Regions from separate parts of the Homo sapiens genome. Here all the other regions are linked to region 3. Evidence: fine-mapped expression QTL. A gene starts in region 3. Each other region holds a variant in brackets. All regions are shown on one strand. Distances are between the middles of the regions. Region 1 overlaps CFAP92 (cilia and flagella associated protein 92 (putative)). Region 2 overlaps RPN1 (ribophorin I). Region 3 holds the start of RPN1 (ribophorin I).

Region 1 (8,272 bases), 300 kb before region 3:
AACTAATTTTTTCATTTGTTTCAAGCATGTTCATTACTGCTTCAGATTCCTTTTCAGATAATTCCAAGATCTGTATCATCTCAGTGTTGGTGTCTGTTCATTGGTTTTTCCCATTCAAGTTGATTTTTCTGGTATGACAGGTGATTTTTTAAAAATTCTATCTTGGATATATTGAGTATTACATTATGAGACTGTATCTTATTTGAATCTTACGTTTAAGCTGGGTGCTGGAGAATCACTTGAGCCCAGGAGTTTAAGACCAGCCTGGGCAACACAGTGTGATCCCTTCTTAATTTTTATTTTAATTAGCTAGATGTGGTGGCATACACCTGTAGCCCAGCTATTCAAGAGGCCGGGGTGGGAGGATGGCTTGAACCCAGGAGGCTGAGGCTGCAGTGAGCTATGATTGCACCACTGCACTCCAGCCTGGATGACAGAGACCCTGTCTCTCAAAAAAAAAAAAAAGAAGAAGAAGAAGAAAAGAAAGAAAAAAATTGTATGTGTAGCAGGCCTTCTCCAACACCAAACTGCATGTGTAGCAGGCCTGTGGAGGGGGAGATGAGAGAGTTACCATCTCAATACTGCCAGGTGAGACTCCAGGTTCCCCACTTGGCCACTGTACCCTGTGGGTAGGGATATCTTGTTACTGCTCTTGTGGACTTCACTGATACATGATGGGAGGCTTCATTTCCATTGAGGGTTGGGGAAAGTCCTGGCTCCCCACCAGGTCTTTTCTGACACTACCCCAGTGAGGTAAGGAGCACCAAGTTAAAGTCAGTGAGGGTAGAAGTCCAGGCTTCCCATGTAGCCTTTGTTTCTGGGGTGGGGCATGATTTTTTCCATGGTGTGTGTCTGGGGTAGGGAGGTTATTTGCCTAAAAGTTTGCTGTTCTGCTGAGTTGTCCCTTTCTTCGTCTTTGATATGGAGAAAGCAGACTTTTCTTGGGGTCCTTTCTGCCTACTCTCACTGGTATTTCTGGATACTGCCTTCTCCAGCACTCAGTCCGGAATATATGAGGCAAATAGAAGACCCAGGATCCCATGTTCCCTAAACACCTTTTCTGTACTTTTCAAAGTCTTTGTATTTTTTTTTTATATATACAACCTGCAGAGTTTTAAAGCTGTACTTAGTAGAACTAGAAGTGTGTCTATTCCATCTTGATCCAGAACAGGAACTCTGTAAGTGTATTTTTACCCGTGAAGCTGGGGATTCAGTGGGCCATTTCAACCTAGAAGCCCACATCCTTCAGCACCGGGAAATTGTCTTAAATTATTTCACTGATTATTTCTTCATTTTTTTCCCCCTTTCTTTTTGGGACTCTGTTAGCTAGATGCTGACTCTCCTGGGCTTTCCTTTTTTTTTTTTCTGAGATGGAGTCTCGCTCTGTCACCCAGGCTGGAGTGCAGTGGCACGATCTCAGCTCACTGCAACCTCTGCCTCCCAGATTCAAGCAATTCTCCTGCCTCAGCTTCCTGAACAGCTGGAATTACAGGTGCCTGGCACCACACCCAGCTATCTTCTACTTGTTTTTATTGTTCTTTCTCTCCTAATTGATCCTTTTTCTAGGAAATGTTCAGAAAAGAGTGAACAGAGTGGGCCTGAGACTACCGTCCTTAAAAAGTCCTGTTTGCAGAGTTGACCCAGGCTGGTATATGGGAACTTGCATTTTGAGAGGGTTCCCCGCACTCCCCGTTAAGAATGGCTCACTGTGCCTAAATGGCTTTTGCAAACAGTATCGTTTGTGCTGAATGCCTGCTTTCCCTTTGGGAGGCTGAGATTTTCATACATGCTAGGCAGGGGGTGCTATGTGACCAGGCCTCAGCAAAAGCCCTAGGCAGTGAGTCCCTCATGGGCTTCCCCAGTGGACAGCATTTCACACGTTGCTGCACTGCATCAGGGAGGAGTTGAGCACCCCCTGTGTGTATCCCCTGGGAGAGGACTTCAGCAGCTTGTGCCTGCCCCCTTTGTTGTTTGCTTTGTCTCTTTTGCTGTAATAAATCACAGACACAAGTGCGCTGCACCCATGCTGAGTTCTGTGAGTTCTCCTAGCGAATCACTGAACTTGAGGGTGTCGGGGGCCTGGGACACAGCACTTCCAGCTTGCTTCATGGGCACTGTCGTCACGTGTGTAGTCCGCTTCCTTTAGGTTGATCTTCCTGTTTGTTTCACTCCACCTTCCAGGTCAGACGTTTTCCTCCACTGTCTGTTAATCCCCTGGCCCACTGCTCATGGCTGAGAGAGCACAGACCTAAAAGGCGAGCTTTGGGTGCACGGTGGGCTTCTCAGCTCTGAGCTTCACCATCGGGTGATCTGAGTGGGGCGTTGGTGGGAACCCCTGGGTTCTACAGGGCTTTCCTAGTTCCCTGCCTGGGGGGTCAGGGTCTAGCCTGCTGCATTCTGAATGCCCACAGACAGAAAGGAGCTGGGAATTTGCACTAAGCAGTGAGCATTTGGTCACCTAATCTCCCTATTTGGGAACGGCACAGATGCCCTCAACTATCCCCTATTCCAGAGACCCTCTGTTATTTTTTTTAAAAAACAAATTTTTCTACAGTAAAATTGATGTTTATCTTTTGGTTTATAGGTCTATAAATTTAAAATTATGTATAGATCAGGCCAGGTGCAGTGGCTAACACCTGTAATCCCAGCATTTTGGGAGGCTGAGGCAGGTGGATCATTTCAGGTCAGGAGTTTCAGACCAGCCTGGCCAACATGGGGGAAACCCTGTCTCTACTAAAAACACAAAAATCAGCTGAGCGTGGTGGCACGTGCCTGTGATCCCAGCTCCTCAGGAGGCTGAAGCAGGAGAATTGCTTGAGCCTGGGAGGCAGAGGTTGCCGTGAGCCAAGATCGCGCCATTGCACTCCAGCCTGGGCTATGAGAGAGAAACTCTGTCTCAGAAAAATAAAATAAAATCACGTATAGATCAATATTATCACCACTACAGTTAGGATACAGTTCTGTTACCCCAAACCCCTCCTTTGTACTCGCCCTTCATAATCACTTTTGCTTCACACACATAACCTCTGACAGCCACTGATGTGTTCTTTATGACTATAGTTTTAACTCTGGAAGAATGTCATGTAAATGGGGCTCTGTGTTTTGCAGCATCATGCAGCTGTAACCTTTGATTCAGCAGATAACAATGTGCATGGCCTCTCCACTCAAGGTAATGCCTTTCAGATTCATTCAAGTGGC[C/T]GCATCTATCGGTAGTTCTTTCCTTTTCATTGCTGAGCAGTATTCCATCACAAGGGTGTACCACAGTTTGTTCGTGCACTCATCAAAGGACATTTAGGTTGCTTCTAGTTTTTGGTAATTATGAATAGAGCTGCTTAAAAACAGTGTACACATGTTTTTATAGGAACATAAGTTTTCAGTTCTTTAGGGTAAATGCCAACAAATGAAATTGCTAGGCTATATGTTAAGTATATGCCTGACTATGAAAAACTGCCCACCATTTTCCAGTGCGGCTGATCACTCTGCATTCTCATCAGCAGTGAACAAGGGTTCTAGTTGCTCCCTACCCTCTCCAGAATGTGGTATTGTCAGTATTTTAAGTTTAGCCAGTCTAAGAAGTTTGTATTGTTATCATATCATGGTTTTAATTTGTAGTTCCCTGACGGATAATGATGTTGAGCATCTTTTGATGTGTTTATTTGCCATTTTACATCCCATTTGGTGAAATTTCTGCTCAAATTTTTGCTCATTTTTCAGTTGGGTTGTTTACTGTCTTACTGCTGAGTTTTGGGAGTTTTAAAAAATATATATTCTAGGCTGGGCACGGTGGCTCACGCCTGTAATCCCAACACTTTGGGAGGCTAAGGCGGGCGGATCACTTGAGGTCAGGAGTTCAAGACCAGCCTGGCCAACATGGTGAAACCCCATCTCTTCTAAAAACACAAAAATTAGCCAGGCCTGGTGGCGCGTGCCTGTAATCCCAGCTACTCAGGAGGCTGAGGCAGGAGAATTGCTTGAACTGGGGAGGTGGTGGTTGCAGTGAGCTGAGATTGAGCCACTGTACTCTAGCCTGGGCAATGGAGCGAGAGCCTGTCTCAGGGAAAAAAAAAAAAAAATTCCGGGATGGGCACGGTGGCTCACGCCTGTTATCCTGGCAATTTGGGAGGCTGAGGCAGGAGGATCACTTGAGCTCAGGAGTTCAAGACCAGCCTGGGCAACATGGTAAAACTCTGTCTCTACAAAAAAAAAAAAAAAAAAAAAAAAAAAGGAAAGAAAAGAAAAATTAGTGGGGCATGGTAGCACACACCTGTAGTCCCAGCTACTAGGGAAGCTGAGGTGGGAGGATCAGCTGAGCCCAGGGAGGTTGGGGCTGCAGTGAGCCATGATTGCACTACTGCACTCCAGCCCGGGGCAACAGAGCAAGACCCTGTCTCACCATAAATATATATATATAATAAATGTGTGTTTACATACACATTCTGGATTTAAGTCTGTTGTTGGATATATTATTTGCTAATATTTTCTCCCAGTCTGTAGTTTGTCTTGTCATTCTCTTTTATTTTTAACCCAATCTGTGACAAGCACATCTTTTCATTCTCTTTACAGTGTCTTTTGCAGAGCAAAAATTTTAATTTTGATGAAGTCCAAATTATACATTTTTTTTCATGTATGCATTGTGTTTCTGTGTCACATCTAAGAACTCTTTGCCTAACCCCTGGTCAGAAGGATTTTTTTTTTCTGTTTTCTTCTCAATGCTTTAATAGTTTTATAGTTAACATTTATATCTTCGATCAATTTTTTTCTTTTTTGAGACAGAATCTCATTTGTTGTCCAGGTTGGTGTGCAGTGGTGCAGTTGTAGCTCGTTGAAACCTCAAACCTCCTGGCCTCAAGCAGTCCTCCTGCGTCAGCCTCCCAAAGTGCTGGGATTAAAGGTGTGAGCCACCACACCCAGCCTTTGATCAATTTTGAATGAATTTTTGTATATGGTGTGAGGTTTACGTTGAAGTTTCTTTCTTTTGCACTTTTGATAAACATAGATTAGCCATACTTGTGTGGATCTGTTTCCGGTTTCTCTTTTCTGATCCGTGGGTCTGTGTCTGTCCTTTCAGCAACACGACACTGTCTTGCTTATAGTAGCTTTGTAGTAAGTCGTAAAAATGGGTGAAGTGGTTCCTCCAACTTTAGTTTTCAACATTGTTTTAGCTCTTCCAGTTTCCTGGCTCTTCTATACAAATTTTAGAATCAGTTTATCAATATCTACAAAAAGTTGTGCTGGGATTTTGATTGGAATTGCATTACATTTGTAAACCTATAAACTGATTGGTTTGAGGAGAGTTGACATCTTTGCTATATTGTCTTCCAATCTATGTATATAGTACATCTCTCCATTTATTTACATCTTTTTTTTTTTTCATCAGTGCTTTGAAGTTTTCAGGACCCCCTATTTACATTTTGCATGGAGAGCAAACTAGTAGACTTCTGCCGAGCCACTGGGGGGACACCTAGGGATCTGATTGCTTCTTAAGGAACTTGCACCCAGTCCTCCCTGCTCCAGCCGTTCCTTTTTACTGCCAGTTCCAGAGATACTAGGTTTGCCATTCCCAAGTCTTTTGAGAGTTTTACAGAGAAAATCTGGTTGGTTCTCAGCTTCTCCATTGTGTGGTTGGTATTTGGCTTTCTCAACTGTGCCAAGCCAGTTACAAATAAATAGAAATACAATAGGTTTTACCTTGATTATATTCTTTCTTTTCTTAAACTTATATCCTTATTTTATATCTCTGATCATTCTAATATCTTATGCCTTGGTGCATCTGATTTCACTAGTAGTGCCTTTGTCTTTACGTGTTCTGTGATTTTTACCATGATCTCGTGTTCAATGGAACTTTCTTGATGGGAATTCTTTGAGGCCTAGGTTGAAAGTGACTATCTCCAGAGGTATTGTGTCTCTGCCCACTGCTCTGGGAGCACCGCCAATCCGGGATTATTTTAGAATAAATTCTCAGCTTCCGTGTAAAATAAATAGTGCCTTTAGATTACGAATTCAGACCACAGACTTGTGTAAGGCTTAATTTGTGATGATAAAATCTCAGCACCAAGGTCAAACCATGCAAATGTCCCTGCTTTCTGCCTCAGCATAGCTTGGCTCTTCCTTTCCACCCTGTTCTCCGTGCTCTCTGAGGCCCAGACCTCTCTGAGGCTGTCTCCTGCCCAGAGTGTCAGTTTTCAGCTTGGCACCTGTGGCTCTGCTAAAGGGGTCTGTGTCGACCCCCAGATATATATTTGGAAAACAGAGATTTCCTTTCTAAAAATCACTTCTCTGTACCTTTTCTGTGCCCAGCCTCGGGATAGGAACTAGAAGTACAGGTATGAAAAAGGACACATGGCCTATCTTCATGGCACTCACATTTTGGGAGGAAAATAAGTAACGAATGCTTTTTGAGTCCTTGTTTCATGCCAGTCGCCATCCTGGTGCGTTCACATGCATGATGTCTGCAGTCCTAGTAATGACCTTGCACAGTAGTGTCTCTTATGGATATTTTGTGGATGAGAAAACTTGGGCTACAGGGACAGGCAATGAGCCTGGCACTGGGATTTGAGCTCCTCATGCTGGGGCTGAGTGACTGTCCTTGTGGCTGGGTGACCTGCTGTGGCCCTGCTCTCTCGTAGAGGCTGTGCATGCCTGTGTACTGCAAGTACCAGTTCCATAAGACTCCAGTTCACAAGACCAAGGGGGAGCCCCATGGAACCCACGTTTATTTCCAGGACATCAACGTCATCTTCCTTGGGGCACTGCACCCCAGTGACCTAAGGGAATACCTGGAGGGCCCCCCCATGGTGGTGGAAGTTCACGACCGGGACCGCAAGTCAGAGGAGTGTTCTCAGAAGCCCGTGCTGTTTGGGGAGGACCCTCTGGATTCATACCTCAACTTCCAGGCCCTCATCTCTCCCAGAGAGACAGAGAACAACCCCTTTGAGTCCCAGAACAAGATGTGGTACCCTTATGGCATCGCCCAGGTCAGTTTTGCTGACCTCCTCCTTGGCCACAAGTACTTGAATCTGGCCGTCCCCATCCACAGCTGTGAGGTTCAGCCCACACACTGCGGCCAGGACAGCAGGAGAAGGAAGGTTGTGGGGCTTGGGGTCCCCAGAGATGGCCACCAGCACGGCCCAATGCCCAGGGGCAACTACCTAGAGGCTGACTCCCAGCTCAAGTTGCGAGTGGACATCGCGGTGCCACTGAGGGCCGGGGCCAGAGCTGCTGATCCTGACCTTGGGGGCTCCCAGTTTGGCCGCATCATCTTCGTCTTTGACTTTAAGAAGGTCTCCCTGCTCCACAGCCTGCTGCAGGACATCACCATGATCAACGCTAAGGCCCTCGGCCTGGACTCCTACCCTGTCAGGACCCTGCAGCAGATCCTGTCAGCCTTCAAGGTGCGTGTGCGGGTCCAGGAGCAGCAGCACCTGGATGTGCTCACTGGCTTCCACCTGCTGGACGGGAAGACACACCTTTTCATCCTGGAAGGCCTGGCCGACCAAGGCTTGAGGCAGCTGTGGGAGAACCACCAAAGCTGGTAGGTGGTTTGTTTTACATTTTACATAAAAATGATGGCATCTGGATGCCGAGGGAGTGGAGAGGTCTTTCAGAGCCAAGCCTAGGTTTAGCATCCTTGTCTGTGAGTCTCCTTTCGGGGTTCATTGTGAGGTACTTACCAGGGTTTAGTCATTGGACTTGAAGACTCGATTGGCTTTGGTTCCAGGGAGGAATTCGGGAGTATCTAAGATGACTGAGGGGTCCAGGAGAGTGGGGCCTGTCTTCAGGGTTCTGAGCCAAGGGCTACTGTGGCTAAACAGGAGCAGAATATTCTGTATTAGATTTCACCTTGCCCCAGGGAAGATCATTTTGAAGATGGAGGGGCTGCTTAGGCTGCAGGAAATTGCCCTTCCCTGAAGGCCTTCAGGGTACCTGGGGGCCACTCAGTGGGAACACTAGAAGTGAATAATTAAAGTGTCCAATTCTGGGCTGCAGCGGGTAGCCCTTTGCAGTTCCTCCATTTTTTAGTTTTGGTGACATGACACCTCTCCCTTCCTTTCACAATTTGCAAGTATACTAGTTTGGGTAGATCGGATCTCCGTCCTTTAGTCTGGAGGGCCCCCATCTGTCCTCAGAGTTCAGATGCCCCAGGACCCACTTGGATGCAGTGGGGAGTCCCGGAGTTGAGGCTGTCTGCCCAGAAGGGGATTGCACCTCTGGGAGACCTGCCTTCCTGTGCTGATGGGCCCAGAGGCACCGGGAGAAGCTGGCCTTGTATCTA
Region 2 (8,000 bases), 24 kb after region 3:
TGGACATTGTGAGAAATGAGGACTTTATCACAGCTACCTATTCTTTGCTTTTCGAAACTAGCTAAATATTTAGGCAGTTGTTTAGGGTTGACTGATGTTCATCTTGTTGATTGGCAGTGTTAGAAACCAACAGAATCTTAAAAAATACCCCCCCATATATATAGATAAGCCATTTTCTTTTTTTTCTTTGAGACAGAGTCTCACTCTGCCACCCAGGCTGGAGCATAGTGGCGTGATCTCTGCTCATTGCAGCCTCCGCCTCCTGGGTTCAAGTGATTCTTCTGCCTCAGACTCCTGAATAGCTGGGATTACACGCATGCACCACTACACCTGGCTAATTTTTGTATTTTTAGTAGAGACAGGATTTCACCATGTTGGCCAGGCTGGTCTTGAACTCCTGGCCTCAAGTGATCCACCTGCCTTGGCTTCTCTTTCTTTTTTTTTTTTTTCTTGAGACGGAGTTTTGCTCTTGTTGCCCAGGCTGGAGGGCAATGGCGCGATCTCGGCTCGCCACAACCTCCGCCTCCCAGGTTCAAGCAATTCTCCCGCCTCAGCCTCCCGAGTAGCTGGGATTACAGGCATGCACCACCAAGCCTGGCTAATTTTTTTTTGTATTTTTAGTAGAGACAGGGTTTCTCCATGTTGGACAGGCTGGTCTCGAACTCCTGACTTCAGGTGATCCGCCCACTTCGGCCTCCCAAAGTGCTGGGATTACAGGCATGAGCCACCGCGCCCGGCCGCCTTGGCCTCTCAAAGTGCTGGGATTACAGGCGTGAGCCACCATGCCCAGCCTAAACCATATATTTTTTTTTTTTTTGGAGACAGAGTCTCGCTCTATTGCCCAGGCTGGAGTGTAGTGGCACGATCTCGGCTCACGGCAAGCTCTGCCTCCCGGGTTCATGCTATTCTCCTGCCTCAGCCTCCCGAGTAGCTGGGACTACAGGCGCCCGCCACCATGCCCAGCTAATTTTTTGTGTTTTTAGTAGAGACGGGGTTTCACCATGTTAGCCAGGATGGTCTCGATCTTCTGACCTTGTGATCCGCCCGCCTCGGCCTCCCAAAGTGCTGGGATTACAGGCGTGAGCCACCGTGCCCGGCCTAAACCATATTTTTTAAGTGAAAATTTGAATAGAAAAAGGAAAAGCATATTCATAGTACTGCGCCACCCAAACACAGCTGTCATTTTGATCTATTTCTTTGTTCTTTTGTAGTGTTTTTAAAAAACATTTTATCATATTGCATATACAGTTTTTAAATCTTTTTTGTCCCATAAATGAAATCTTATAAACTTTTTTTTTTACTTATGTATGATAGAAGGGGTCAGTATGTGAACAAAGGTATTATACCTTCCTCCCATGATCAAAATACACTGACAGATTTGGAAGATACAATAAAGTATATCAGGTAGAAAAACCCTTTCTGTAACCCTACCACCTAGTAATTTGATGAAATTTCTTCCGTCTTCTATCTTTACTTTTCTTCTCTGCAAAATAACTTGCAAGATTATTTTTACCTTTGTATTAAGTCTTCAATGTTCACAAAGGTATTTGCATTTCCCTTAATTATTTACTGTTTAGAAGAATTTGGGTAGTTAGCACCCTTGATTGAGAAGTCGACGCAAACCTTTGTGGGGAAAGTTAGACTTTTTTAGGTTGTTTATGTTTGGGGACTATTTTAATTAAGTAGTACCATGTGAGGATCTTGGTGCAGGAAGTCTTCTGTGTTTAGGATCATTTCCTCTCAGCTGGTTCCTGGAGTTTTAGAAGGGCATATCCACTCTCTTGCAGACCATCCTTCCTGCTGCTGCCCAGGATGTTTATTACCGGGATGAGATTGGCAATGTTTCTACCAGCCACCTCCTTATTTTGGATGACTCTGTAGAGATGGAAATCCGGCCTCGCTTCCCTCTCTTTGGCGGGTGGAAGACCCATTACATCGTTGGCTACAACCTCCCAAGCTATGAGTACCTCTATAATTTGGGTCAGTCTTCAATAGTAAGGGAGAAACTAACCTTTTCTTTAATTTCGTGAATTTTTTTCTTTCAATTATCAGTCTTTATAGATGGGGTGTGTTCATTTGTCATTCTGAGGAAGGCTGGTTTTATCAGGAACAACTTTTTATAAGTGGGTACGAGTTAGTATTGTAAAAGTAATACATGCATTTGATAGTCAATCCGAACAGTATGTAAAAGTCTTCTTCTTACTTGCAGTTCTGTCATCAGATGGAACCGCTGAAATTCCTTTAAATAGTTTTTGAGTTATTTAAAAAATGAAAATTCAGAGAATAATAAAAAACACTTTTATATGAACACCCAGAACTAATGATTGAAAACATTTTGTCATATTTTCTTTCAAGTCTTTCTTTTTTTTGAGACGGAATCTCACTCTTGCCACCCAGGCTGGAGTGGAATGGTGCGATTTTGGCTCACTGCAACCTCCACCTCCTGGTTCAAGCGATTCTCCTGCCTCAGCCTCCTGAGTAGCTGGGATTATAGGTGCCCGCCACCACGCTCAGCTAATTTTTTGTATTTCTAGTAGAGATGGGGTTTCACCATGTTGGCCAGGTTGGTCTTGAACTCCTGACCTCAGGTGATCCACAGGCCTCGGCCTCCCAAAGTGCTAGGATTATAGGTGACAGCCACCATGCCCGGCCAAGTCTTTTTTTTAAACCTTTTTACTGAAAAATAAGATACAGAAAACCATACAAAAAATGTATAGCTCAGTGAATTATTATGAGGAAGACCTTGTGCCGCTCCCCACCCCCTCCTGTCAAGAAATCAAAATTTGCTAGCTACTCAAAAAGTGTTCCATGTACCTCTTCCTTCTCAAAGTCATTGCCCCGACTTTGAGTAATCACTTTCTTGAATATCTTTGTAGTTTTATCACCCAAGTGTATATCTCTACATACTATACCTTAGTTTTGCCCTTTTCAATCTATTCAATTTGCCTTATCTATTAATCTGCAGTTAATACCTACATCTGTTTTTCTTGGCTTGATCTTCACTCACTGCAACCTCTGCCTCCTAGGTTCAAGCGATTCTCTTGCCTCAGCCTCCCGAGTAGCTGAGACTACAGGCACCCGCCATCATGCCTGGTTATTTTTTGTATTTTTAGTAGAGATGGGGTTTAACTACGTTGGTCAGGCAGGTTTTGAACTCCTGACCTCAAGTGATCTGCTCGCCTTGGCCTCCTAAAGTGCTGGGATTATAGGTGTAAGCCACTGTGCCAGGCCTGTTTTTTCATTTAAAACTTTTCTGGGAGGCTGAGGTGGGAGGATTGCTTGCACTCAGGAGTTTGAGACCAGCCGGGGCAACATGGTGAAAACGGGTCTCTACAAAAAAATTTTTAAAAATGAAAAATTATCTGGCTCACACCTGTAGTCTCAGCTACTCGGGAGGCTGAGGCAGGAGTAACACTTGAGTCCAGGAAGTTGCCCTTTAGCCTGGGTGACAGAGCAAGACCCTGTCTCTAAAAAATAATTAAAGTTGCTTTTCTTTGCATTTATGTTAAAGCATTATTATTTGTTGTTATTCACTCTAATCCATCTTAATTAGCCTTAATTCCTAAAATGCCTCTTTTATTTCTAAATTTTTTTCCTGATTTCTATCATTTTTCTGAATTTTTCTTTTTTTTTTTTCTGTCTCACTTTGTTGCCCAGGCTGGAGTGCAGTGGAGCGATCTCAGTTCACTGTAACCTCCCAGGCTGGAGTGCATTGGCGCGATCTCAGCTCATTGCAACCTCCGCCTCCTGGGTTCAAGAGATTCTCCTGCCTCAGCTTCTGGAGTAGCTGGGACTACAGGCATGCACCACTACGCCCAGCTAATTTTTTATTTTTAGTAGAGATGGGGTTTCACTATGTTGGCCAGGCTGGTCTCGAACTCCTGACCTCAGGTGATCCACCCACCTCAGCCTTCCAAAGTGCTGGGATTACAGGAGTGAGCCACCGCGCCCGGCCTGAATTTTTCTAATTATTGTTTACATTGTTCTTGCATGACTTACATGATTTTATTAATACCTTTAGCTTGTTTTGGAATAGCAGGAGCAGTCTCCTGGTTCGTTTTTATGGGCGTCTTGCTGGCATGTTTTCATTTTCTTACAGGGGTGTTCTTGTTTTCATCCCATTTTTCTTATATAACTTAATCTTTTTTTTTTTTTTTTTTGAGATGGAGTCTTGCACTGTTTCCCAGGCTGGAGTACGGTGGCACAATCTCAGCTTACTGCAACCTCCACCTCCTGGGTTCCAGTGATTTTCTTACCTCAGCTTCCCAAGTTGCTGGGATTACAGGCATGTGCCACCACACCTGACTAATTTTTATAGTTTTAGTAGAGATGGGGTTTCACCATGTTGGCCAGGCTGGTCTTGAACTCCTGACCTCAGGTGATCTGCCTGCCTCTGCCTCCCAAAGTACTGGGATTACAGGCATGAGCCACTGTCTGTTGATCATTTTTAATGTGACCTTTCCGAAGGAGGGATGGTTTAGAGTGGCTTTTGTACCTTCCCAGATCTCTGCTATTTTAGTGCAAAAACATGTGGCTTGCTTTCTGAGCTTTC[C/G]TCTGTGCGGTTTTTGAGTTCCATTGTCCCTATCATGTTCATTTTTGATTGTGTTGAGCAGTTTCTCCTCACTGTAGGGCACTGTCCCAGAAGGGGAGTTCTGCTCTCAGGGACTAGACTGCTGCAGACTCGTAGACCTTCTGCAGGCCCGTTTCACTCACCATTAGGCAGGGCACAACTGCTCCGAGTTTCAGCCACTCCTCACACTGGCCTGCTGTGCTCTCTAGGGAATCCCGGTTGTGTGTTTTGGGGTTCTGCTGTTCTCAAGCCCATCAGTTGCCCTGTTTCTTCTCTCTGCGTTCTCCTTCACAGACACTGATAACGTGAAGGTCTTGTGGCTGTCGGTGTTTTGACCCCCATCCCTGTCTCTGTGTTGTGGGGTTCAGTAGAGATACTTTGTTGCCTGGTTTTGTTGTAAACATGGTCCGTGGGTTTTTGGTTTTGCTGTCTACTTGCTCTGTCTTTATGTGAGCCCCTGTACTTCTTTCTCTCCTGCCCATTTGATCCGTTTTCCACATCATTGCTTATGCTTGCTTGATCCTTCAGGTGACCAGTATGCACTGAAGATGAGGTTTGTGGACCATGTGTTTGATGAACAAGTGATAGATTCTCTGACTGTGAAGATCATCCTGCCTGAAGGAGCCAAGTGAGTGTGACTGTTCCTCTCCTTTGCACCCGATTTCTCTGGTTGTACCCTTGTGGTACCCTAAGGAGAGCCTATGTTCTAGGGGCACAGTCTTTGTGTCACTTTTCTCTAGATTTACTTTATCAGGGAACATCTACTTGGCCTCTCTTGAGTCACATGTCCACTCTGACTGCCAGAATGAGAGACCCCTTGATTTTCTTCCTGTGGAGAATGTTCCATAGTGGAAGAGTAGTTCCTCATGCAAATCCAGGCTGTGCTGTTTACCAGGAGAAGGGACAGTGGGCCTGGGCAGACAAAAGCAGGACATGTCCCCTGCCCCGTAAGAAGCTCTTATTCATGTGAAGAGAAAGAACATTCAGAACAGCTCGTGAGGCATCTGTTCAAGCCTCCCAGGGATTCACTGGGTAGGATGTACAGGAGAGCTGTGTCAACTTTGTGACTCCAAGGAGTGGGGCCAGTACTGGTGAGAACTTGGGAGTGGAGGATTCAGAGGGACAGTTGTTGCCCCAGCAGACAAGGGCTTTAAAACAAAGGGCTTTCTGGCACTGGCTCCCCTGTCTCAAGAGAGTGGGTGTTCTCCATAGCTGAGAAGGGAGCAGAGTGGAGGAGTGTGAATTTAGTGATCTTGAAAGGCTCCTTAGCCTTGGAATTCTCTGATCCTAAATCTGGTTTATTGATGTAGTTGGTTGGAGGCTATATTTTATTCCCATCTTCTTCCAGGAACATTGAAATTGATAGTCCCTATGAAATCAGCCGTGCCCCAGATGAGCTGCACTACACCTATCTGGACACATTTGGCCGCCCTGTGATTGTTGCCTACAAGAAAAATCTGGTAGAACAGCACATTCAGGACATTGTGGTGAGTGGCTCCACTGTTTGCCTTCCATGGCGTCTTCCCCAGACAGTGGGCTCTGGGGGCCAAGAACTCACCTTCTGTCCCTCCTTGGGCTGGAGTCATTTGAGCTCATGGCGTCTTCTGGTCTTGGGGTGGGGCAGCAGGTCGAGTGGGCCAGCCTGGGTGAGTCTAGGCTCCCATGTCCCTACAGCCCCGATGAAGCCTGTCCTCTTGCTTCTCCCAGGTCCACTACACGTTCAACAAGGTGCTCATGCTGCAGGAGCCCCTGCTGGTGGTGGCGGCCTTCTACATCCTGTTCTTCACCGTTATCATCTATGTTCGGCTGGACTTCTCCATCACCAAGGTACCGTCTCTGCCTTCTTCCTGCTTGTCATTTGTGTCCTTGGTAATATTTCACCAGCTTGAGCACTGATCCTCACAGTGAGCCCAGGGCAGGACGCCATGGCCAAAAGACCCCTGCCTGTGCTCATCCTTGCCGGAAGGGTACTTTGTTTTTGTTGCTTGTGGTCACTAGCACAGGAGGTTAAGTCCCTGCTTCTGTCTTGCTTTGGCTCTGGAGACAGAGTAACTTGGATGCTCAGTTGAGGTAGGAAAAACATGAAAAGATTGGTGCTTATTTAGCTGTTTTGCTTCTTGTTATTCAGTGGAACTTGGAGGTGGAAGTCCCCTCTTAGTCCCCTCTCCCTCCCCACCTCCCCCTTGGTGATTCCTTGTTGGGAGCAGAAACCACTGACCTGGCCCTGTCAGCACCGTTCTCCCCACTCCCACTCTCTGCTCCCTGACAGGCTCCGTGGCTCCTTGGTCCTCCCCAGGCTGCACTGCTGTTATCCTCAGGTCATCCTCTTGCTCTTTTCTTCCTTCCTTCCTCCATTTCTCATTCTCTCATTGTTCCTTAGGGCTCTTGGCTCCATGCCCCAGGGTAGGCACTAGTACCAGGCACTTATTGTAGTCAGGTGGGTGAGGCCTGGTGGAGGAGATGAGCACAGCTGGTGCTTGAGGACTGTGGAATGTGATGACAGGCACAGCGTGTGTTTTTTTTTTTGAGATGGAGTCTCGCTCTGTTGCCATGCTGGAGTGCAGTGGCGCGATCTCCATTCACTGCAACCTCTGCCTCCCGGGTTCGAGCGATTCTGCCTCAGCCTCCTGTGTAGCTGGGACCACAGGTGCGCACCAAGGGTGTGCTTCTAGTGGGGCAACTTGGGAGGCCCCAAGGCTACCCTGAGGAGGTGACAGGCAAAGAAGGTGGGGAAGGGCATTCAGTTGGAGGGGCTGATGTTTGTGAGACAGCAGGGAGGGGTTTTGGTAGGACCTGTGAGCAAAGATGTTGATCCAGCCGAACTGTGTGGGTCCACTTATATGCAGATTTTTTTCTTTTCGTTTTCTTTTTTTTTTTTCCTGAGACGGAGTCTTGCTCTGTTGCCCAGGCTGGAGTGCAGTGGTGCGCTCTCAGCTTGCTGCAACCTCCGCCTCCTGGGTTCGAGCAATTCTCCTGCCTTGGCCTCTCGAATAGCTGGGACTACAGGTACGTGCCACCACGCCCGGCTAATTTTTTGTATTTTTAGTAGAGACGGGGTTTCACCGTGTTAGGATGGTCTCAATCTCCTGACCTCGTGATCCACCCGCCTCGGCCTCCCAAAGTGCTGGGATTACAGGCATGAGACACCGTGCCTGGTCAGATTTTTATAATCAAATGCAGATAGGAAATACAGTACTCAATACAGTGTTTGAGGGAACTGAAACCAAATATGTGGAGGGCTGACTTTTTGTATACTTGGGTTTCACAGGGCTGACTACAGGACTTGAGTATGTGCAGATAGTCGGAGATGCGGGGGGGCGGGGGCTCGAGGAATAACTGTGTGTGTGTGTGTGTGCGTGTGTGTGTGTGTAATTATTTCTGCTGAATCATTGGAGGTTAAGTTGCAGACGTTGTGCCCCTTTACCCTTGA
Region 3 (8,251 bases):
TTTGAAGAGTCGGTTATTTTGTAGAATTTTCTTCAATTTTGGTTTGTCTGATTTTATCTATTTTTTTTATTATTACTATTTTTTTGAGATGGAGTCTTGCTCTGTCACCCAGGCTGGAGTGCAGTGGCATGATCTTGGCTCACTGCAACTTCTGTCTCCTGGGTTCAAATGATTCTCCGGCCTCAACCTCCCAGGTAGCTGGAATTACAGGTGTGTGCCACCATACCTGGCTAATTTTTTGTATTTTTAGTAGACACGGGGTTTCACCATGTTGGCCTGGCTGGTCTTGAACTCCTGACCTCAGGTGATCTGCCTGCCACAGCCTCCCAAAGTTTTGGGATTACAGGCGTGAGCCATGGCGTCCGGCCTTCTTTTTTCTTTTTTTTTTTTTTTTGAGACAAAGTCTCACTTTGTCATCCAGGGTGGAGTGCAGTGTCATGATCACAGCTCACTGCAGCTACAACCTCCCAGGCCCAAGTGATCCTCCCACTTCAGCCTCTTGAGTAGCTGGGACTACAGGGGCATGCCACCACACTAGGCTAATTTAAAATATTTTTTGTAAAGATAGAATGTTGCTATGTTGTCCAGACTGGTCTCAAACTCCTTGGGGTCAAGCAATCCTCCTGCCTTGGCCTTCCAAAGTGCTGTGATTACAAGCATGAGCCACCATGCCCAGCCTTGTTTTGTTTTTTGAGACAGGGTCTTGCTGTCACCCAGGCTGAAGCGGCATGAACATAGCTTACTGAAGCCTTGATCTCCGGGGCTCCAGTGATCCTCCTGCTTCAGCCTCTCAAGTAGCGGAGACTACAGGTGTCAGAGGCATGTGAACGACAACAACTCCATCCTGAATAGGAACTGGGTAAAACGAGGTTGAAACCTGTGAGCTGCATTCCCATACAGTTAAGGCATTTTAAGTCACAGCGTGTTGGGAATTGGTGGGTTCTTGGTCTCACTGACTTCAAGAATGAAACCGCAGACCCTTGCGGTGAGTGTTACAGTTCTTAAAGGTGGCGTGTCTGGAGTTTGCTCCTTCTGATGTTTGGATGTGTTCGGAGTTTCTTCCTTCTGGTGGGGTTCGTGGTCTCGCTGGCTCGGGAGTGAAGCGGAGGACCTTCGCGGTGAGTGTTAACAGCTCTTAAGGAGGCGCGTCTGGAGTTGTTCGTTCCTCCCGGTAGGTTTGTGGTCTCGCTGGCTTCAGGAGTGAAGCTGCAGACCTTCGTGGTGTGTGTTACAGCTCATAAAGGCAGCGTGGACCCAAAGAGTGAACAGCAGCAAGATTTATTGCCAAGAGCGAAAGAACAAACTCTCCAGTGTGGAAGGAGACCCCAGCGGGTTGCCACTGCTGGCTCTGGCAGCCTGCCTTTATTTTCTTATCTGGCCCTACCCACATCCTGCTGATTGGTTCATTTTACAGAGAGGGGAGAGGTCTGTTTTGACAGTGTGCTGATTGGTGTCTTTATAATCCCTGAGCTAGACACAAAGGTTCTCCACGTCCCCACTAGATTAGCTAGATACAGAGTGTCCACACAAAGGTTCTCCAAGTCCCCACCAGAGTAGTTAGATACAGAGTGTCAACTGGTGCATTCACAAACCCTGAGCTAGACACAGGGTGCTGATTGGTGTGTTTACAAACCTTGAGCTAGATACAGACTGCCGATTGGTGTATTTACAATCCCTTAGCTAGACATAAAGATTCTCCAAGTCCCCAACAGTCTCAGGAGCCCAGCTGGCTTCACCCAGTGAATCCTGCACCCGGGCGGCAGGGGGAGCTGCCTGCCAGTCCCCGGCCGTGCGCCCGCACTCCTCAGCCCTTGCGTGGTCGATGGGACTGGGCGCCTTGGAGCAGGGGGCGGCGCTCGTCGGGGAGGCTGGGGCCGCACAGCAGCCCACGGAGGAGGGGGAGGCTCAGGCATGGCGGGCTGCAGGTCCCGAGCCCTGCCCTGCGGGGAGGCAGCTAAGGCCCGGCGAGAAATCGAGTGCAGCGCCCGTGGGCCGGCACTGCTGGGGGACCCAGCACACCCTCCGCAGCCGCTGGCCGGGGTGCTAAGCCCCTCATTGCCCAGGGCTGGCAGGGCCGGCCGGCCGGCCGCTCCGAGTGCGGGGCCCGCCAAGCCCAGGCCCACCCAGAACTCCAGCTGGCCCGCAAGCGCCGTGCGCAGCCTCGGTTCCCGCTCGCGCCTCTCCCTCCACACCTCCCTGCAAGCTGAAGGAGCCGGCTCCGGCCTTGGCCAGCCCAGAAGGGGGCTCCCACAGTGCAGCGGTGGGCTGAAGGGCTCCTCAAGCGCGGCCAGAGTGGGCGCCAAGGCCGAGGAGGCGCCGAGAGCGAGGGAGGGCGCACGCTGTCACCTCTCAACAGGATGAGATAGAAGGTCGGCACAAAATACTGGTCATAAAGACCTTACTGATAAAACAGGTTGCGGTAAAGGAGCCGGCCAAAACCCACCAAAACCAAAATGGCAATGAGTCCTCACTACTACACTCCCACCAGCGCCATGACAGTTTGCAAATGCCATGGCAACATCAGGAAGTTATCCTATATGGTCTAAAAAGGGGAGGCATGAATAATCCACCCCTTGTATAGCATATCATCAAGAAATAACCATAAAGATGGGCAACCAGCAGTCCTCGGGCTGCTCTGTCAATGGAGTAGCCATTCTTTTATTCTTTTACTTTCTTAATAAACTTGCTGGCTGGGGGCGGTGGCTCATGCCTGTAATCCCAGCACTTTGGGAGGCTGAGGCAGGTGGGTCACGAGGTCAGGAGTGCAAGACCAGCCTGGCCAAGATGTTGAAACCCCGTCTCTACTAAAAATACAAAAATTAGCCGGGCGTGGTGGCGGGCGCCTGTAATCGCAGCTACTTGGGAGGCTAAGGCAGAGAATTGCTTGAACCCGGGAGGCACAGGTTGCTGTGAGCCAAGACTGCGCCACTGCAATCCAGCCTGGGCAACAGAGCGAGACTCCATCTCAAATAAATAAATAAATAAAATAAAAAATAATAAACTTGCTTTCACTTTGCACTGCGGACTCATCCTGAATTCTTTCTTGCGTGAGATCCAGGAACCCTCTCTTGGGGTCAGGATCCAGACCCCTTTCCTGTAACACAGGCACTTGTCACCAGGCCCGGCTGATTTTTGATTTTTTGTAGAGATGGGGTTTTACCCTGTTGCCCGGTCTAGTTTTGAACTCCTTGGCTCAAGGGATCCTCCCTACTTGGCCTCCCAAAGTGCTGGGATTGGTGGCATGAGCCACTGTGCCTGGCCTTGTCTGATATTTATGACTAGATTGAGGTAATGGATTTTCAATAATTTTGTGGCAATACCACAGAAGTGATGTGCCTTTCTCAATGGATCCTATTAGTAGATACCTAATGTTACTATATTTTATATGTGGTGATGTTAACTTTGATCACTTGTTTAAAGTGGTGCCTGCCAGGATTCTCCACTGTAAACTATTTTTTCCTTTGTAATTACTAAACATTTTATTTTTATTTTTTAATTTCCTTTTGAGAGGGAGTCTCGCCCAGTCGCCCAGGCTGGAGTGCAGTGGCACGATCTTGGCTCACTGCATCTCCTGCCTCCCGGGTTCAAATGATTCTGGTACCTCAGCCTCTGGAGTAGCTGGGATTACAGGCACGCACCACCACACCCGGCTAATTTTATTTTATTTATTTATTTATTTATTTTGAGAAGGAGTCTCACCCTGTCGCCTAGGCTGGAGTGCAATGGCGCGATCTTAGCTCACTGCAACCTCCGCCTCCCAGGTTCAAGCGATTCTCCTGCCTCAGCCACCCCAAGTAGCTGGAATTACAGGCGCCTGCCACCACGCCCGGCTAATTTTTTGTATCTTTAGTATAGACGGGGTTTCACCATGTTGGCCAGGCTGGTCTCGAACTCCTGACCTCAGGTGATCCACCCGCCTCGGCCTCCTAAAGCGCTGGAATTACAGGCGTGAGTCACCGTGCCCGGCCTAATTACTAAACATTTTAGTAGAGATGTTTTGAAACTTTGCATATATCCTGTTTCGGCTTCAAGTTCTGCCTACTAATTTTAGCATTCATCCGTGGATGTTGGGGAAGGCCAACTTTTACTTTCTCAATCTGAGCAAAATTTCACTGTTTTAAGGAGCAAAACGAGCAGAATTATTGGACAGGAAGAATGGTAGGAGAGAGTAGAGACCTAGGCAAGGGCCGCTCCTGTAAAAATTAGGTAAGTGAAAACTAGTAATAATAAGTACACTCGCGGCTGGGCGCAGTGGCTCACGCTTGTAATCCAGCACTTCGGGAGGCCGAGGTGGGCGGATCACGAGGTCAGGAGATGGAGGCCACAGTGAAACCCCATCTCTACTAAAAATATAAAAAAAAATTAGCCGGGCGTGGTGGCGGGCGCCTGTAGTCCCAGCCACCCGGGAGGCTGAGGCAGGAGAATGGTGTGAACCCGGGAGGCGGAGCTTGCAGTGAGCTGAGATCGTGCCACTGCACTCCAGCCTGGGCGACAGAGCGAGACTCCGTCTCAAAAAAAAAAAAAAAAAAAAAAAAAAAAAAAAAAAAAAGTAAGTACACTCGCACTACGAACAGAAGGATATCCCGAGCAGCTCTGAGAGGGCTTTAGCAATCAGGCGCCGGGTCGGCTTCCCGGTTGCCCCGGAGACAGGGTCCTTCCTTGTTCGGCGCCGCCATCTTGTGTCACCAGCCCTTGCCCAATGAACGGCTGCTCAGTGGCGGGAGGGCGGGCTACCGCGCCCGGGCCCTACCCGCCCTGGCGCACTGCTCTTCCCGGTCATGGAGGCGCCAGCCGCCGGCTTGTTTCTGCTCCTGTTGCTTGGGACTTGGGCCCCGGCGCCGGGCAGCGCCTCCTCCGAGGCACCGCCGCTGATCAATGAGGACGTGAAGCGCACAGTGGACCTAAGCAGCCACCTGGCTAAGGTGACGGCCGAGGTGGTCCTGGCGCACCTGGGCGGCGGCTCCACGTCCCGAGCTACCTCTTTCCTGCTGGCTTTGGAGCCTGAGCTCGAGGCCCGGCTGGCGCACCTGGGCGTGCAGGTGAGTGTGGGCGACCCCTCGCCGCCGCTCCCGGGACCCTTCCCGCCTCCCTTCCTGGCGGTCCCCCGACTCCGCCCGCGCCCCTCTAGGCCTCAGGAAATGCGGAGACCCGGGCGGCGGGCGGGGCACAGGGGGTCCGTGGGATTGCCTCGGGGCCCGCGAGGAGTCCTGGGTGGCCAGGGGCCCCGGCGCCTCCGCTGCCCCCGGTGCGCGCCCGCCCTCCTGCCTGGGCCACGTCAGCACCGGCCTGCCCCCGCGCGGGTCGCTGCTCACGTGGGCAGCTGCTGGGATCCGCGGCCGACCAGCCTCGGAGCTTGCCCCTGTTTGGGCCGTTCTCGGCACCGCTCGGGAGACCTCGGGCCGGTAGAACGCACCTCCCTTCCGTAAGGCGAGCGCGGCAGCCCCTCGGCCCGGTGCCAGCGGGCGCCAGACTTCATTTCTCACGGCCCGACGAGGTGGCTCAAGTAGAGGACAAATAAATGAATTAAAGTGAATTTCATTCTCTTAATTCAGTATCTGGTCCGTTGTAGGTGCTTCTTTCTAGACATAGAGAACCATCAGAAATGTAACAGGTTTCGCATTTTTAAGTTGGTAATCACTTGAAATCCCTATGAATGTGATGCATTTTAAGGTTCCTAGTGAACGCTTTCTAAATGTTAAAACTCTTTTTAAAGTTAGTTTTAAAACTCCTGCACGTAATATAAGTTCTCTTATGCTGTACAGAAAAGGAAAGTCCAATTTTCTCCCTTCCCCCTGCTGCTTCTCATTCTTACACCTCGGCAATAAATGGCTGTGTTTGGCTTAAATGTTTCCAGGTATTTCAGTGATCACCAAAGAAAATGTTGGGTTTGGGAGTAAAGGGAATGTACATACACAGAGGTTTGGTTTTTATTACTATTGTTGTTAAACAATTTCATTAAATGATTACCTAATTATTTGTTGAGAGAATAGTCATTATAGTGTCACATTTCTTCTAAGCACACTTCGTTCTCTGACTGAATATGGAGCTATAAAGATGGGTTTATAGAGATTACGTTTCTGAAATGACTCCTATTTTCTTTCATGCGTTGTCCATGATGAAATAAAGTTTTACTCAAAGGCTTGTGGAAAGATAGATCAAAACTTCATGTAAATTTGCCTTGCCATCTTTGAATGTCTTGAATGTTAAATCCCGTTCTTTATAGAAGCCAGTTGTGATTTAATGAGCTTGTTACAGTATAAGTGGACCACAGCAGGAGCTCGGCTATCCTGCCATCATGCCTGCGAGCTAGGTTAATGTACTTATTTTATCTTGTTTTTATTTTTTCTCCCAACTTTATTGAGGTATAATTGGTATACAAAAAACTGCCTATTATTAGTATATTCAAAATACGTATACACTGGTGTAACCATTACCACAATCCGGGTAATAAACATATCTGTCACCTCCAGAAGTTTCCTTTTGTCCTTTAGTTTGTTTGTTTCTGTGGTAAGATACTTTCTTACTGGGACTCTACTGTGTGTCAGATATTATGGTGGGTATTTTAAATATATTCTCATTTAGCCCTCATAGCAACCATTTAAGGTATAAATCCTCATATAGCAGGCAAGGAGGCTGTAGTCTGTCAGGTTAAGTTATTTAGCCCCTTACATGCGGTCTTACAGTGCAGAGTAAGTCAGGGCTCCAGCTTATTCCGTAAGTTGTGTGTTCTCACACTGTATAATGTTGCCTCTTCTGGCTTTTATGGCTGTGAGATAGGATTGTATTGGGTATAAGACTTGCAGTCACATTAACAGATTTATTTAAAATCATTTTCAATTTTGTAGTCCAAGACACCAGTTAAATGGATATATGTGCTATTTTGTACTCCTATCCCAGTGGGAAACAACTGGATGATAAACTTAACAAGGAGATGTATATTTTCCAACAGTTGTGTTGGAAACTGATGAGGTTGCTGAAATGTTTTTCAGTGGGTTCTTTTCTTTTTCTTTTTTTTTTTGAGACGGAGTTTCACTCTCGTTGCCCATGCTGGAGTGCAATGGCGCTATCTTGGCTCACTGCAACCTCTGCCTCCTGGGTTCAAGCAATTCTCCTGTCTCTCCTCTGGAGTAACTGGGATTACAGGTGCATGCCACCACGCCTGGCTAATTTTTGTATTTTTTTTTTGATGCAGAGTCTTGCTCTGTCGCCAGGCTGGAGTGCGGTGGTGCAATCTCGGCTCACTGCAACCTCTGCCTCCCAGGTTCAAGTGATTCTCCTGCCTCAGCCTCCGGAGTAGCTGGGACTACAGGCGCGTGCTGCCACGCCCAGCTAATTGTTGTATTTTTTTTGTAGAGACAGGGTTTCACGCATGTTGGCCAGGATGGTCTTGATCTCTTGACCTCATGATCCGCCCACCTCGGCCTCCCAAAGTGCTGAGATTACAGGTGTGAGCCACTGCGCCCGGCCAATTTTTGTATTTTTAGTAGAGACAGGGTTTCATCATATTGGTCAGGCTGCTCTCGAACTCCTGACCTCAGGTGATCTACCTGCCTCGGCCTCCCAAAGTGCTGGGATTGCAGGCGTGAGCCACCATTCCTGGCCTTCAGTGGGTTATTTTCAAACCCTTGTAGAATTTTAGGAGCTAGCAGAAGGGACCATGGTGGTTACTGACTAGGAGCCAGTGGTTGCTTCTCTTTTTACCACCAAGGACCCATCTAATGATTTTTCCTCTCTTTTGGATCCTGTATCTGAAATATTTTGGCATGCTAATATTTTATTAAGTAACAATATTTTTCAATAAAACAAATAAGTCTGTATAACTGAACACAATGAGAGTTCCTGATACACACACATATACTAGAATGTTCCTTTTTTTTTTTTTTTTCTTGAGGCAAGTTCTCAATCTGTTCCCCAGGGTAGAGCACAGTGGCCCAGTCAGAGCTCACTGCAGCCTCGAATTTCTGGGCTCAAGCTATCCTCCCACCTAGCCCCCTGAGTAGCTAGGACTACATGTGCGCACCACTACGCCTGGCTAATTAAGAGCAATTTTTTGTTTTTTCAGAGATGGGGTCTTGCTGTGTTGCCCAGGCTGGTCTTCAACACCTAGCCTCAAGCAGTCCTCCCAAAGTGTTGGGATTACAGGTGTGAGCCACTGCACTTGGCCTGGCTGGAATATTCCCACTGTGATAAGATTCTAGTCAAAGTAATGAAACTTGTTTGTATTAGACTGTACAGCTTTATTGAGGATGAT

What was found. PIP is the estimated chance that this variant, and not a neighbour inherited with it, causes the effect.
Region 1: its variant is the best candidate, but not a certain one, in a credible set for the expression of RPN1 in whole blood (TOPMed, PIP 0.73).
Region 2: its variant is the best candidate, but not a certain one, in a credible set for the expression of RPN1 in whole blood (TOPMed, PIP 0.64).

The regions. Positions count from the first base shown.
Region 1 is chr3:128,944,330-128,952,601 of GRCh38, reverse strand. CFAP92 (cilia and flagella associated protein 92 (putative)) reads left to right here. Exons shown (of 16, transcript NM_001394090.1): 10 at 6,627-7,531. Among named protein-coding and RNA genes, the nearest start is that of CFAP92, 46 kb to the left of the region's middle. The variant C/T (reference allele first, on the strand shown) is at 3,199.
Region 2 is chr3:128,623,931-128,631,930 of GRCh38, reverse strand. RPN1 (ribophorin I) reads left to right here. Exons shown (of 10, transcript NM_002950.4): 5 at 1,788-1,980; 6 at 5,099-5,198; 7 at 5,919-6,057; 8 at 6,278-6,397. Among named protein-coding and RNA genes, the nearest start is that of RPN1, 23 kb to the left of the region's middle. The variant C/G (reference allele first, on the strand shown) is at 4,553.
Region 3 is chr3:128,647,328-128,655,578 of GRCh38, reverse strand. It overlaps RPN1 (ribophorin I), which reads left to right and starts at 4,761. Exons shown (of 10, transcript NM_002950.4): 1 at 4,761-5,039. The coding sequence starts at 4,779. RefSeq lists enhancers at 4,288-4,367, 4,528-4,797, 5,468-5,537 and a silencer at 5,048-5,317.